Linked DNA regions of Homo sapiens: region 2 is linked to region 1. Evidence: fine-mapped expression QTL. A gene starts in region 1. The other region holds a variant in brackets. All regions are shown on one strand. Distances are between the middles of the regions.

Region 1 (4,256 bases):
GCCAGGGGATAGGTTTAAATTGTGTCAACATACCTGTCTTTGATCTAAGTTCAGGCCAACTTCCATTCCTCAATATTTTGTGGCTGTCACAGACCTGAGACTGACATTCCAGTTTCCGGAGCCTTTGTTCCACTCCAAAATCAGAGTTCAAAGGTTAATTTCATCAAATTCTATGTGGATGCCTTCAAAGAGTATGTCTATGCGCACAAAGAAGCCGGCCATATGCTTATGAGCATTAAATGAGTTAATATATGTGAAACAATTATAATAATGACTGGCACATAGCAATAACTCCATAAACATTTTCTGGTGCTGCTGTCGTTGTTATTGTTATCCTCCATTTGTTCAAAAAGAATGTATCAAGTGCCTGTAGATGTTCTGGGCACAAGATATACAAAGGTGAACTGAACAGACCAGATCTCTGCCTTTATGGAGCTTAGCATGTATGTGTCCATACTTGGGAGGGGGAGTGTTTAGTTCACAAAATAAACAAAGTTCTGTAAGTTGAGCAGAACAGTGAACGGCTGTGCTACCTAGATGGGTGGTAATAGACTACATTCTTGGTGAGGACAGGCCGATCTCTCTTGTTCGACACTGTTGCTCCAGCATCTTGTGAAAGCCATAGTGGGTACCTGATTTATGTTGGTTGACTAAATAAATAAATGGGTGACTTTCTGAGAGGGAGCACAGTTAAATCCGGCACAACAGGTTTTGGGTTTAGGTGGTGTGTGCAGATATGATGTAAGGTATGTAGTTTGCAGGTTCTGTTTATGTGGCAGAGTCGGCGTCAGAGTATACGTGGGTGGACGTGGGGAAGAGAATGAGGTTATGAAAGCACAGATGTACATAAGTAAAGTCTGCATACATCTGAGGTAACATGAAAAGCAAAGTCTTTGGTTGTGTGATTTTTGAAGTAAATCTGGGCTTAGGTGTGAATCTAAGTGTCGGTTCCGACTGAGGTAAACCTGGACTTGTGTCAGTGTGTGAGATTAAAATCTGGGGTTTGTTGTATGAGGGACAGAGCATCAATGAAGAGTGCTTTGCAAGGCAAAACCTAAGAATGTGTGTGTGTGTGTGTGTGTGTGTGTGTGATCTGAAATGAGGCAAATTAGGGGTGGTAAAAAGCAAACTAGGATATTATATAGAAGCTAAGAAAGGGCTTATGTGAGCCAAAGGGCTTTTGTGACTCTCAATGAAGTAAGAGGGCTTCTCTCTCAGTGTGTGTTTGTGTTGTGTGTGTAAGCCAATTCAGGACTTCATGTGAGAGTGTGGGTTTGCAAGGCAGATTCTAGAACTGGGTGTAGTTATGAGTGTCATCCTAAAGATCAGGATGAGGCAAGTCCGGGGTTCCGGGTAGGATTGTGAGTCTGTCGTAAATTTGAGTTTGTATGTGTTAGTTGTAAATCAGGACTTGGCTTTGAGATGAATCCACCTGGGTCAGCTGGGTTTTTGTGCACGAGGGACGTCAGAAAGCTTTGTGTTTGTGAGGCAAACTAGGGAGTTAGTGTGGGTGAAGCAGTCAAGTGCTGGAGTGTGAACATTTCTAAGACGTCTAAATTGCGCGAAAGTGTGTGAGGCAAGGCTGTTGCGCGAGCGGGCAGTGTGCGCCTGTGTGTGCGTGTGCGCGCGCGCCAAGTTTGGTTTGTGATTGTGATGGGCACCGACGCTGCGTCAGCCCGGGAGGCCACGTTAGGGTTGGGGGTGCGTGAGGAGGTGCGGCCGGGCGAGAGGTCCAGCGAGTGAGCCAAGCGCGGCGCTACTCTGGGCCCCTGCTCCGCGCGCTAGCTGGCTGTGTGGCTCGCTGGCTCGCTAGGGACAAGCAGGAATCGGAGCAGCACTGCCGCCTCTGGCGCGAAGGCTCAGGCGCCTCCTCCCGCCACAGTCACTGTGGCTCGGCGCACGCTGCCGGCGGCTGCCCTTTCCGCCTCTGGGGAAGAAAAACCCGCGGGCCGCTTTCGTGCTTGAACCATGGCCTCGGGCCGGAGGGGCTGGGACAGCTCCCACGAAGACGATCTGCCCGTGTACCTGGCCAGGCCGGGCACCACGGACCAGGTCCCGCGGCAGAAATACGGCGGCATGTTCTGCAACGTGGAGGGCGCCTTCGAGAGCAAGACGCTGGATTTCGATGCCCTCAGCGTGGGGCAGCGGGGCGCGAAGACTCCTCGGAGCGGCCAGGGCAGCGACCGAGGATCGGGGAGTCGGCCCGGGATCGAGGGGGACACCCCGCGCAGGGGCCAAGGCCGGGAAGAGAGCAGGGAGCCCGCGCCCGCCTCCCCCGCCCCCGCCGGGGTAGAGATCCGGAGCGCCACCGGCAAAGAGGTGTTGCAGAACCTCGGCCCCAAGGACAAGGTAAGGGGGCCCCGGGTCACTTCCCTCCTTGCCTTCGTTCCTTTCTCCAGCCCTGGCCGCCATGGCCCGGGCACAACTTTCTCCAGCTCACTTTGCACGGGGCTGGGGGACAAGGAGGAGGAAAGGGTCATCCTCCACTGAGCGTAGCGCGACTTCCTAGCCCAGACCCTGGATTCGCGCGTGTCGCCACTTGCAGCATCTTCGTGCAAGCGCGGAAGGGATGCCCGGGTTCCCCTGCCTGGAGCCGCGTCCTTTGCCCCTGCCTCCTCGCCGCACTCCTGGGCCATCCGGTCTGGGTGGGTGTGTCAGCCCGGGAAGGCTTAGTGATTTCCAGCTCTTCTCTCTAGTAGCCAACAGCACAATTGTCTTGCCCCCCTCTGGCCCTAGATTAAATCTCAACCCGGGTCACCACGGCAGAGGGCAAAGTGATGCTGGGAATATGGGGGTCATCTCCATAGTGCCCGGATGAAAGTACTGGAGGGGCGGTCTCCCCTCTCAGTCTTCAAACATCAGCTCTGTCCCTGAAACTTTTGGGTGTGGAGCCTCTAGACTAAACACGCGAATCTCTCTCTATGCCTCGCTTGTGTCTTAGCACGGCATTTCACATCTGTGTTTGTAAAGAGTGTATTTGTGTACATAGCTTGGCACAAGACTGGGTATTACAGGGGTCCAGCTGCCTCTGCAAGAATAGCATTATATTTTAGAAAATAGACGAGAGTATTAAGAGTGCACATTAAACTAGCATGAGATGCAAATTCCCTGCTGCTCTTAAATGTGCCAAAGCCAATTTCTTCTGTATGTGTATTTTTGAGAAACTTATGTCACACTGAACTGACTGAAGGGATGGCATTGAAATCTAGCTTGCCCTGATTTATGTGTCTATTTCACAGAGACTCAGAGATGTAGTTCAGAAAATGCAGGGCCTGGCAGGGCTGGAGACTTCAGAGTTCAAACTGAAGCTTTCAGTTGGGGAATAATAATAATCAGATGCCCTCACCCTTGTCTAGGTAATGGCCGCAAAATCCATCCGCATGTATTATTCTGCACTAATATGGTTAGGAATAACAACCTGAAATGGAAATGTCTGCCTCAGAGCAATTACAGTTAATGCTTATTCAGGTTTTAGTTGTTTTTCCATTAAAATGCAATGAGCTAGTGAAAGAACAGCATCTCTGTTCACTGTTTGATTTTTGAAAGTTTAGACAAACCAACCAACCAACCTTTGACTACTAAGACCACCAGGGAAAATAAGTGCTGAAGTTAGTGCTGTTCAAGGGTACCACTTGGAAAACAATGTCGGCTTCCTCTGAAATCATTCATTTAGTTTGTGATTTTCACATCATCCTTTTAGTGCGTGATTCCCCTAAGCCCTTGCTTACCAACGTTTTAGGGAAAACTTCTGATATTTTGCAAATGTTTTGGTTGATATCTAAACTGAAGAAGAACCCTATAGAAAGGTTATTCCTTTCTTCATGTCTGACTTGTCCATATTGAAATGTTCCCTTCCTGACTGGAACGGGCGGGAGTAGTGATGGAAAAGGTCGGTAACAATTGCTGTGAGTCAGTGCTATTCCCTTTGCTGAAACACCCCTGATGTAAGCCAGATAATATGCTGGGTTTGCAAGATTTAAGAATGGTAACTAGAGAAAGGGAAAATATTCCTCCTTTAAACCTAGCAATTCTCCCGTTTTCCTCCCTTTTGCAAACCCTATACTTTTGGCTACTAATTGAGAAATAATAATACAACCTAGGCATCAGCAGGATTTCTAGTGCTACATAGTCATTTGTAAGTTTGGGCTTGCCATCTGCTTCATCCAGGCCATGTTATTATCTCTAATTTGGTTGAATCACACTGTTAGAAGAGACCACGGAGGTTATCAAGTTCTGAACTTGTTGTTTATTTCCTT
Region 2 (4,256 bases), 27 kb after region 1:
AGTCCTGTCTCCTCATTCAGTCAGCAGTGATGTGGCTCCACAATAGCTGTAATATTGTCATAATTTCCATAGAAACCATCTGTAAAGCTGCAAACACAGGATTACACCCTCCCTGCAGGCTGAGGCAGGAAGGCCAGATGGGCTATGAAGGGGAAAAGCCCTCAGCGAGACATAAATCATTTGGTGAAGGGGAGGAGGATGGGGGAGGAAACCACTTTAGGAGAAAAATTCTGTTTGGTGCAATCTTTGCAAACAGGATGAAATTCCCAAATGAAGTGGCCAGCAGCACGGGCTCCCTTCCAAGGCCAGTGTCTGGAACTGGTTACTTGCCGGGAACCTGGTTCTAATGAGGCCAGAGACAAAGATTTCTTATTATGTGGGCTGCTGATTTCACAGGTCATTAGCCACAGACAGACAGACAGAGAGACAGACCTAAGATCCTGGTCAACTCTTGTGTGTTCAAAGACAGAGATGGAAAGTGACGTGTAATGTTCACTCCTCAGTGCCAGGCTGGACTTTTCACATATGTAGCTCATTGGGCCTTCACAGTATCCCTTGGGGGGGAGATATTATTCCCATTTTACAGATGAGATAATCGAGTTATTCTCATTTTACAGATATGATAACTGAGCTATTCTAACTCCTTCTTGTTCAGATCTCATCTTCATCTTAAGTTTTCTGAGACCTTTCTCCGGGTGAGGTCCACCTATATGCTTCAGAATGCACCTCTATTTAATACTCATTATTCTGTGTAATAAATACTTGTTAACCCCTTTCCCACTCACCTGAGATTCCTTTGAAGGCTGTGTCCTTACCACTGCCACAGGGTTGACTCATAGTAAATGCTCATTACCAATTTTTGAATAAATAAATGAGAAAGTCTGAGTAACTCATTCAAAATCTATCTTTTCCACAGTTGTGTAGCTGGGAGTTAGAACAGTGCCTGGCATATACAGACCCTTAATAAACATTGGAATGAAGTAGTGAATGAATGGACGTCAATCAGCTGATTACACAGTTTATCAGGAAGTCACATCAAGCTTTTCTGATTTCAAACACAGTGTTACATTAGCCGGGGCCATTGTCATGTCTGGCCAGGCAATTCAAAGCACCTGGCTTCCTGTTAGTGTCTTGCTACTGTTTGCTTTTAAAAGTACCTCTTATTATATAACAGCTCTAACTAAAAAGCATTCGCTGAAAGCTCGGAAAGTGAGGGTGAGACATGGATCTGTTACTCACCATGTAAATTTGATCATATCCCTTTACCTTTCTGGGCCTTAATTTCTCCATTGTTGAAATAATTATAGTTGAGTTAAATGTGAGATTTTCTGTGAGCACCGCCATATGGTTTTGCTTTGTGTCCCCACCCAGATCTCATCTTGAATTGTAATCCCAACGTGTCAAGCGAGAGATCTGGTGGGAAGCGATTGGATCGTGGGAGCAGTTCCCCCATGCTGCTCTCATGATAGTGAGTTCTCACGAGATCTGATGGTTTTATAAGAGTTTGACAGTTCCTCCTTCACACACTTTCTTTTTTCTGCCTCCTTGTGAAGAAGGTAATTGCTTCTTCTTCAGCTTCTGCCACGATTATAAGTTTCCTTTGGCTTCCCCAGCCATGCAGAACTGTGAGTCAATTAAGCCTCTTTCCTTTATAAATTACCCAGTCTAAGGCAGTATCTTTATACCAATGTGAAAACAGACTAATACAACCTCCTTCTTTTAGAAAAAAAAATCAGAAGTAATCTTATGCGTAAGCTCAATACAAGTGAAACTGCTT[T/G]GATAGAGACTTTCTCAACCTTCCTTTTATGTGCCCAGCCTCTACCCCTTGGTGGCCTCTGAGGAAGCTCAGTGGAAAAAACGGTCTCTGGTGAACACAGTTGGGAAATCACTAGAATAGATTATAAGTAGGGCCATTCTGGCTCTAAAATTCAAGAGTTCTAGAAATATTGGCACTGAGCTCCACACATTATGTGGCCAATCTGAGCTGATGGTGTGTGCCACCTATCCTTACAAATATAGATCTAGATGGAGAAGAATGGCCATGGGATTTGGTGTCATAATTTCTGATTTTTGAACACTCAGATCCACCACTTCCACAAAGGGTATTACCCCTGAGCAAATCATTTTACTTCTCTGAGCTGATTTCCTCAAATCTATAGATTGTGAAAAGGGTTCTTTCATGATTGGGTTTTATGAGATCCAAACTGATAGCTATTGTTTATCGTGTAATTACTAAGTCCTTGGTAAATTACATTGGGAGAGGCAGGGAACCATGGGTTTTGGGTATCCTTGCATGTTGTTGCTGGTTATAACAAAAATATGAGGCCCTGACTGCTCTTTATCTGGATCATTTCTCATGGTTATGTTTTTAGTGAGCAATCTTGAGTGATGAGGTAATGTTTCCCCTAGACAAAGAGTAGTTTTGCTTCCTCTTACTGTAAAAGTGGCAAATCTTCCTACATCAGTATTATTCTCCTGTAACACAACCCACTGTATGTGCAGGCATCTGGCATCTGTGTTGAACCATGTCTTAGTCCATTTTGTGCTGCTATAACAGAATACCTGAGACTGGGTAATTTATAATGAACATAAATTTATTTAGCTCATGATTCTGGAACCTGGAATGTCTAAGAGCATGGTGCTGGCATCTAGCAAGGCCCTTTGTGCCATGTCATACTATGGTAGAAGGCAGATGGGCAAGAGAGGCAAAAATGAGCAAGAGTTCAAACTCACAGCCTCAAGCTCTTTTATAATTGCCATTAATCCATGCATAAGGGTGGAGCCCTCATGACCTAAACATCTCCCATGAGGCCCCACCTTCAGGCACTGTTGCATTAGGGATTACGTTTGCAATACATACTTTCTGGTGAACATATTCAAACCACAGCAAGCCTTTTGCATCATCCCTGTGAGACTTGGGAGGTGTGGGCAACCAAAGAAAGCCAACATAAAACTCTAGCTAATGCTTTTTCATGAGTAATAAAGTCATTTGTCTCTGACCCAGGAACCTCCTGTCTTCTGCCAGCATCCATGAAATAGTAACAGGCTAATTTGTTAGATTGTAAGTAATATAAAACTTCAGACCCTACACAGTTCTTGACATATTATGTGTAATATATTACATTGTAGTGTATTCTATCATATGATTTTAAATTATTACAGCAGCCCTATGAGGTAGGTAGATTCTAGTAACAGTATTTCATAGATAACAAAAACAGTTTCAACAAGGTTCAGTGACTTGCCAACTGTCACACAGCTATTATGTGGCAGAACTGAGATTAAACCAAGGACTGTTTAATCCCAAAAGTTACACCCTTATCTACATTTCCTCTCTGAATTTTATGAAATAATGCGTATGAAATTTTTTGTAAACTTTAAAGCATTATATACATATGTTTTATTTTTAATAAAAATAGATTTATGGCCAGGCGTGGTGGCTCACACGTGTAATTCCAGCACTTTGGGAGGCCAAGGTGGGTGGATCACCTGAGGTCGAGAATTTGAGACCAGCCTGACCAACATGGAGAAACCCTGTCTCTACTAAAAATACAAAATGAGCCGGGCGTAGTGGCACATGCCTGTAATCCCAGCTACTCAGGAGTCTAAGGCAGAAGAATCGCTTAAACCCGGGAGGTGGAGGTTGCAGTGAGCTGAGATCGCGCCATTGCACTCCAGCATGGGTAACAAGAGAGAAACTCCTTCTCATAATAATAATAATAATAATAATAATAATAATAATATATATATATTCATGATGTGTGCACTAAGAAATTGGTTCATTTCAACAAATCTGTATTGATTGTGGTCCTAGCTTCCTACAGCAGATAAAGCTGCCCATTTAAACTTCTGTGGAAAACCTGGGTTTAGTAATGGTTATGCTGCTTACCAGCTGTGTGACATTGGACAAGATAATTAACATAGCCATATCAGTCTAGGTTCAGCCACCATAACAGAGACCCTACTAGGTGCTTCAGACAGAGGGGATTTGATACAGAGAGTCGATTATACACATGTTGGAAGTTGAAAGAGCGAAAAGAGACATAGACGTTAATCCAGAGAAAATAACTAGAGGAAGTGGCAACCACCCAAGGCTGAATGAATAAGGAGGGGTGCTGCCCTACAGGTTCATTGCCCAGATTTTGGAGGAGGGATCTCTACCTGACTGCTCCTAAGAGGGTGTGGCAAAACTGGGAGTGACAGCGCAAAAAGAAGCTGGAGGCCGGAGATGACTGCCGCTACAGGAGTGATGCTGGCAG

Which allele goes with the higher level. Positions count from the first base shown, and alleles are read on the strand shown. Sizes are in standard deviations (SD) of each study's normalised expression.
In carriers of allele T in region 2, the expression in lymphoblastoid cells of the gene that starts at base 1,759 in region 1 tends to be higher than with G alone (moderate effect, 0.63 SD a copy in GENCORD).

What was found. PIP is the estimated chance that this variant, and not a neighbour inherited with it, causes the effect.
Region 2: its variant is the best candidate, but not a certain one, in a credible set for the expression of DPYSL3 in lymphoblastoid cells (GENCORD, PIP 0.59).

Annotation. Positions count from the first base shown.
Region 1 is chr5:147,507,571-147,511,826 of GRCh38, reverse strand. DPYSL3 (dihydropyrimidinase like 3) reads left to right here and starts at 1,759. Exons shown (of 14, transcript NM_001197294.2): 1 at 1,759-2,349. The coding sequence starts at 1,969.
Region 2 is chr5:147,480,188-147,484,443 of GRCh38, reverse strand. The region is part of intron 1 of DPYSL3 (dihydropyrimidinase like 3); the gene reads left to right. Among named protein-coding and RNA genes, the nearest start is that of DPYSL3, 28 kb to the left of the region's middle. The variant T/G (reference allele first, on the strand shown) is at 1,778.